2 linked regions of the Homo sapiens genome follow. The protein of the gene in region 1 purifies or fractionates together with the protein of each later gene. This does not show direct contact. Each region holds a gene or a part of one and is shown on either strand. Other genes may lie near its edges. The genes, in order: ARFGEF1 and TBC1D22B.

What was found.
Region 2: the proteins of ARFGEF1 (region 1) and TBC1D22B purify together in Homo sapiens (pull-down; one large-scale study listed by IntAct). This does not show direct contact.

The regions. Positions count from the first base shown.
Region 1 is NC_000008.11:67,221,477-67,225,302, forward strand, and holds part of ARFGEF1 (brefeldin A-inhibited guanine nucleotide-exchange protein 1), read right to left. Parts: intron 3,558-3,826; coding exon 3,427-3,557; exon of another isoform or gene 3,213-3,426; intron 1-3,212. UniProt on the Homo sapiens protein: Promotes guanine-nucleotide exchange on ARF1 and ARF3. Promotes the activation of ARF1/ARF3 through replacement of GDP with GTP. Involved in vesicular trafficking.
Region 2 is NC_000006.12:37,260,734-37,264,559, forward strand, and holds part of TBC1D22B (TBC1 domain family member 22B), read left to right. Parts: intron 1-3,826. UniProt on the Homo sapiens protein: May act as a GTPase-activating protein for Rab family protein(s).

The sequences.
Region 1 (3,826 bases):
TAAAAAATAAAAATAGAAATAGAAAAAAGCTTATAGAATAAGGATATAAAGAAAATACTTTTATATAGCTGTACAATGTGTTTTAAGCTAAGTGTTAATATAAGAGTCAAGTTTTTTAAAATTTTAAAAATTATAAAGCAAAAAAGTTACAGTAGGCTATGGTTAATTTTTTACTGCAGAAAAATATCTTCTCATAAATTTAAAGTAGCCTAAGTTTACAGTGTTTGCCTTTGCATTCACTCACCACTCACTCACTGAGTCACCCAGAACAATTTCCAGTCCGGCGAGTTCCAGTCATGGTAAGTGCCCTATATGGGTTTTTGTTGTTGCTTTTTTTTTTCTTTCTTTTTTTTTTGAGATGGAGTCTTGCTCTGTCGCCCAGGCTGGAGTGCAGTGGCATGATCTCTGCTCACTGCAAGCTCCACCTCCCAGGTTCAAGCCATTTTCCTGCCTCAGCCTCCCAAGTAGCTGGGACTACAGGTGCCCACCACCACGCCCGGCTAATTTTTGGTATTTTTAGTAGAGACGGGGTTTCACTGTGTTAGCCAGGATGGTCTCGATCTCCTTTCCTCGTGATCCGCCCACCTTGGCCTCCCAAAGTGCTGGGATTACAGGCGTGAGCCACCATGCATGCCCAGCCTACAGGTTTTATCTTTTATGCCATGTTTTTACTGTACCTTTTCCATGCATATATATATATATACACATATATATATATATATATATATACACACACATATATATATATGTATATGTATGTATGTATGTATGTATGTATGTATGTATGTATGTATTTTTTTTTTTTTTGAGACAGAGTCTTATACTGTCACCCTGGCTGGAGTGCAGTGGTGCCATCTTGGCTCACTGCAACCTCCGCCTCCTGGGTTCAAACAATTCTCATGCCTCACCTTCCCAAGTAGCTGGGATTACAGGTGTGCACCACCACACCCGGCTAATTTTTGTATTTGTATTTTTTAATTTTTATTTTTATTTTGAGACAGAGTCTCACTCTGTTGCCTGGGCTGGAGTAGAGTGGCACTCTCAGCTCACTGCAACCTCTACCTCCCAGGTTCAAGCGATTCTCCTGCCTCAGCCTCCTAAGTAGCTGCGATTACAGGTGCGCACCACCACGCCTCGCTAATTTTTGTATTTTTAGTAGAGAAGGGGTTTCACCACGTTGTCCAGGATGGTCTTGAACTCCTGACCTCAGATGATCCGCCCACCTGGGCCTCCCAAAGTGCTGGGATTATAGGTATGGCCACCATGCCTGGCCAAATTTTTGTATTTTTAGTAGAGATGGGGTTTCACCAGGTTGGCCAGGCTGGTCTCAAACTCCTGACATCAGGTGATCTGCCCACCTTGGCCTCCCAAAATGCTGAGATTACAGGCGTGAGCCACTGCACCCAGCCTGTTTAGATATGTTTAGATACACAAACACCACCGTATTAACAGCTGCCTACAGTACAGTAACATGCTGTGCAGGTTGTACCCAAGGAGCAATAGGCTATGCCATCTAGATTTGTGTAAGTACATGCTATGATGTTCACACAATGCTGAAATTGCCTACTAATGCATTGCAGAGAACATACTCCTGTCATTAAATGATGCCTGACTATATTTGGGACTTTAATTTTCGGTATTTATCCCCAAATCTAGAGAATTTTGGAAGAATTAAGTAAGAATGCACACAAGAAATTCTTTCTACACAGTGTTATACCAATTATAGTGCTGCACTATTTGTTGTTGTTAAAGACAGAGAGTCTCAATTTGTTGCCTAGGCTGGAGTACAGTGGTGTGATCAGGGCTCACCATAGCCCCAACCTCCTGTGCTTAGGCAATCCCGCCTCAGCCTCATGAGCAGCAGGAACTAGAGGCATGACCACCATGCCTAGTTAACTTTTTGTTCAAAGAGATGGGGTCTCACTATGTTGCCTAGGTTGGTTTCAAACAATCCTCCCACCTTGACATCCCAAAGTGCTGGGATTACAGATGTGAGCCATGGCATCCGGCCCACATTTTAAGATGGAAGCTAAATAGCAACCCATACATATCCTGGGATGAGGTAGGAAAATCAAAGGCCATCACTGAACAAAGTTTACTGATCTTTTCTCTCTCCTTTACTAACTAGAACACACACAACCTCTTTAACAACTGGAATCTACCCATAATCTGAACATGGAATATGGTGAGAAATAAGGTATCACAGTGCCAAGCAACAGAAGGCTAAGAAAGCAGGTGGATCCTCCATCAAACAGACTTCTACAAATAAATAAAGGGTGAGGGGAGAGGGTGCTGAGTTTTCATGACCTGCTAGTCATGATATGTCAGCCGCTCCACTGAGGCAGGTGGACAGCTGAAATGGGGCTATCTTGAATTTTAACAAGTTCCTAACAGGTCCACTGATAAACAATCCACCATGTCTAAATATAAAATAAAATGTTTTTCTATAGTGCTCTCATAATTAAAATCCCTAAGGGTTAAGTCCTATTTTGATTATCTATTTCATACGAATTTCTGTTGTAACAAATAATACTATAAAAATGAAAAATTTCTTGGGATATAAGTCAAATTTAACCTTGGTGGGGGATGGGGGTGGTTCTGGCATAAGGTGAGAAAAGAGAGATTCATTCTGTGCTACCTTTAGAAATTCAAAAAATTCGATAAAGTTACACATCCAAATAACAGAAGATTCTTCCAAATAAGATGGAAAGATTCCTAAAAGATTTTGTTTACCATAAAATTGAACTCACGGTGGGTTTAGAGGTTGACAGATATTAGGACACACAAGCTGGCCATTTCAATGTGGCAAAGTACAGGGTAAAAAAACTACTATGGGAATCATGTGAGCCGTGACCTAAGAACAGTGTGTTAGCATTTGGCCAGTTACATAATACCCATAATAGTTCCTTTACAGATTGACTATATGTTCATAATGATCTTTTATTGGCAATATACTTTTGAAAGAGTTCTATTTGAATAGCTCTATATTATTCCAAACTATGTTACTGACCAGGTTACAAAAAGAAATGGTTCTTCACCTAAAACCCAGCAAGGATGTGCAGTTAAAAATTCTTCTATCATTCATCAGGAAATAAAATAAATTTTGCCACTAACTTCAACTTATTATTGGAAACAAATATATGAAAAGACGGAATGTTTAAAGGATTAAATTAACTTAGAAGCTAAAATCAAATGGAGGCTATAATCAAATATTTTAAAAATAATGTAGTATTTCCATTTTTATTTTGCTCTAGTTAATATTTTTAAATCATATTAACATATTTTAAAATATACCTAATAATTAATATATTTGACAAAACACTTGATTTTATGGTCTTTAACTGTGAGATTGTGTTTATAAAGAAGAGTTAATTTGATTAAAGTCAAAATAAATCCAAAATTTTAATTACAAATATAGATTGTTACCTGGTTCTTACATCTAATTTGCATCTATTGATGATACAGGATAACTCAAAGAGAATTGGGAACCATCCTCTCACCCACACCCTGTCTTCAGGTGCTACGTTCATATCATCGCTTGTGTATTCCTTGAAAGCCTTCAAGAAAAAAGGTAGGGTTATTAAAGGCAAAACATAACACCCATACATTCAGTATACTAACTTCTCAAAAAATAATTTAAATGCTTCACAAATAACCAGTGAGCAATTTAATAAAAAATAATTTATAAAAAATGGACACTATAACTGCCTACAATTTTAGTATATGTGCCACTGAAATAGGCAAAACATAACTGCCTATAAAGAGCTCTGGACTAGAATCCAAAAGTTAGCTTCACTTTCAACTGTCACCAGCTTTCTGCATTATT
Region 2 (3,826 bases), on another chromosome or scaffold:
AATATGATCTGAGGCCTTTTGTGAGTGGCTTCTTTTATTAAGCACAGTGATTTCAGGCTTGTCCACGCTGTAGTATGTATCAGTACTTCATTCCATTTTATGGCTGAATAATATTCCATAGTATACATACACCACATTTTGTTCATTCATCAGTTGATGGATATTTGAATTGTTTTCACTTTTGGGCTATTGTACGTAATGCTTTTATGAACATTTATGCAGAGGTTTTTGTTTGGATATATATTTTCTATTCTTCTGCTGATAAATAGGAGTGGAATTGCTGGGTCATGTAGTAACTTGGTGGAACTAAGCATCTTTTAAGTTCTCTCAGTTATTCACATGAGCCCCATTTACTTAGCACATCAAATGGTCATTGTATTAATGCCTAGAAGATAAGAGGCAATCTCTACCATTGCAGGCTTTGGCAGGTGTGGTGGCCTGTAATCCCAGAATTTTGGAAGGCTGAGGCAGGTGGATCGCTTGAGGCCAGGAGTCCGAGACCAGCCTGGCCAACGTGGTGAAACCCCCCATCTCTACTAAAAATACAAATTAGCTGGGCTTGGTGGTGTGTGCCTGTAGTCCCAGCTACTCAGGAGGCTGATGCCCAAGAATCTCTTGAACCTGGGAGACGGAGGTTGCAGTGAACTGAGATTGCGTCACTCCACTCCAGCCTGGGCAACAGAGCAAGAGATTGTCTCCAAAAAAAAAAAAAAAAAAAAATGCAGGCTCTGAAATCTGACTGCCTAGGTTAAAATCCCAGCTCTGCTTTCTAGCTATGTGATCTTATGGGATTTAATTAACCTCTCAATGCATCAGTCTCCCCATCTCTAAAATAGGGACAGAGTATCTGCTCCATGGGGCTGTTATGAGGATTAAATGAGATAATACATAATAATTGGTTAGGAGGTACACAATAATATTAGCTATTATAAGAAGGATAGTTACGATGATAGTAGCTATCATTTTTGTTTTCTCTCCTTGCTTCAGTTTTTGAAACTGAAATTGAAAAGCTTTGATCTGGTTGGGTGTGGTGGCTCACACCTGTAATCCCAGCACTTTGGGAGGCTGAGACAGGTGGATCATTTGAGGTCAGGAGTTCGAGACCAGCCTGGCCAACATGGTGAATCTCCGTCTCTACTAAAAACACACAAAAAAATTATCTGGGCTTGGTGGCACAAACCTATGGGGGAAAAATAAAAAAGCTTTGGTCAGTGTGTGTGTGTGTGTGTGTGTGTGTGTGTGTGTGTGTGTGTGTGTGTGTGTCTAGAGCTCGGGCACAGGAGAAAAAAAAAATCACCTTTTTTTTTTTTTTTTTGAGATGGGGTCTCCCTCTGTTGCCCAGGCTGGAGTGCAGTGGCACGATCTCAGCTCACTGCAGCCTCTACCTCCCAGGATTAAACGAGTCTCCTGCCTCAGCCTCCTGAGTAGCTGGGATTACAGGCACATGCCACCATGCCCAGCTAATTTTTGTATTTTTAGTAGAGAAGGGGGTTTCGCCATGTTGGCCAGGCTGGTCTTGAACTCTTGACCTCAAGTGATCTCTTGACCTCAAGCCCACCTCAGCCTCCCAAAGTTCTGAGATTATAGGTGTGAGCCACCGTGCCCAGCCCTGGCTAATTTTTGTATTTTTTGTAGAGACAGGTCTTGCCATGTTGCCCAGGCTGGTCATGAACTCCTGGGCTCAAGCAGTCTGCCCACTTCATCCTCCAAAAGTGTTGGGATTACAGGCATGAGCCTCTGCGTCTGGCCAAAATCGAAATTACCTGAGTCTTCCAGGCCCTTCGTTGTTAGAAAGAGAGGCCAAGTTAAGAACTTGAAGCCGATCCTAAAATAATAATGAATCTGATAGGAGACTTAGTGTAAAAGTCACAGCCTGTCTGGGCAGGTACATTACAACTTGTTCTTGGCTTGGAGATGTTTTACTGGTAGAGTGAGTGACTAGAAGATACTAAATTATCATCGAAACAGCATAGATCACCTGTTCTGGAAGACTAATGTGGAGTGAGTGTGTGAACCTACATCAGTTGCCAACACGTTTGGCATTTAAATTTGATGGGTCTTTTTCCCATATTTGCACTAGCTCTTTTATCAGTGCTAAACAAACACCTGTTGATTTTTCCTACCAAGATGTTTGCACTGTTTCAACTAGGCAAAACAGCTATGTCAATACATTCTATGGTGTTGGTTTTATTAAAGAGAGTGACGGAGATTAATCAGAACTTTTGTTCCATTTTGTCTGCGTGGCAGCATATTCCATGGCATTCTTTTCTCTGCATATGTGGTGTGATTTCTTCGAGATGCAGTGTGTTAACTAACCTCTGGTTTTTAGGTCTAGCTTAAGTGGAGGCCTAGGTTTTGTAGAGATCTAATCTTCACTTACTAAATATTGTTAAGTGCCTGCTGGTATGTGTCATGCTCTGCCAGGTGGCAAGGGGGCTACAGAAAAAGATATGGCACCACTATGGCTTTCTAGGAGCTAAAAAATCTGCTTGGCATCATGGCTTCCCCTGGAGAAGATGCTGTGTATGATTGACTTTCTGGTTTTTCCACTAAACATATGTTATATTTGTAATCAGACAAACTTAAAAGTGGAATTGGGTGAAAACACATTGTTGAATGCAAAGAGCAAGATGTAGAAAGATATGTGCAATGTGCAGTCTTTTATGTGAAGTTTAAAAACATAAAAAATACTGTGTGTTGTTTATGGATCTGTGAATATATGTAGAGGAATAAAAACAGATGGGAGGAGTTCCCTCCAATTTCAGAATAATTGTTATCTCTTGGGAAGTGAAGAAACAGGACTAGGGACTGCAATTAGGGCATCAGTAGTCTAACACTTTGTTTTTGTTTTGTTTTGTTTTGTTTTTTTGACATGGAGTCTTACTCTGTTGCCAGGCTGGAGTGCAGTGGCCCGATCTCCGCTCACTGCAACTTCCGCCTCCCGGGTTCAAGCGATTCTCCTGCCTTGGCCTCCCGAGTAGCTGGGACTACAGATGCGTGCCACCACACCCAGCTAATTTTCTTGTATTTTCAGTAGAGATGGGGTTTCACCATTTTGGCCAGGATAGTCTTGATCTCCTGACCTCATGACCCACCCACCTTGGCCTCCCAAAGTGCTGGGATTACAGGCGTGAGCCACTATGACCGGCCTAACACTTTTTTTCTTAAATGAAATGTGACAAATGTTAACATTTGTAAATCAGAGTGATGGGTTTGTGGATGTTTATTATATCATTTTCTGTACTTTTCTTTGTGTTTGAAAATGTCAATTAAATGCTTTTTCACTTGTGTTAGAGCAAATGTTTTGTATTTTTTTTTTTTAACTTGTGTTGGAGAGATCAGCCAGTTAGCCATGGAATTAAGTAAAATTTAAAGTAACATGATTTAGAGTCAAAATAAGTCATATTTACAGTGTGATGTTATTTATATAAAGTTTAAAAAACATGCAAAATCATACATTATTTAGGGATACATACATAGAAAATAAAAATATAAAAATGAGTGTGAAAAATGCCAGATCCAATAGAGTGGCTTGCTAGGAAGGGAGGGAGGGGTATGCCAGGGTGTTTTGTTTTGTTTGGTTTTGTTTTGTTTTTGACACGGGGTTTCACTCTTGTTGCCCTGGCTGGAGTGCAATGGCACGATCTCGGCTCACCGCAACCTCTGCCTCCCAGACTCAAGCAATTCTTGTGCCTCAGCGTCCTGAGTAGCTGGGATTACAGATGTGTGCCACCAAGCCCAGCTAATTTTTATTTTTAGTAGAGATGGGGTTTTGCTGTGTTGGCCAGGCCAGTCTCGAACTGCTGGACTCAAGTGATCTGCCTGC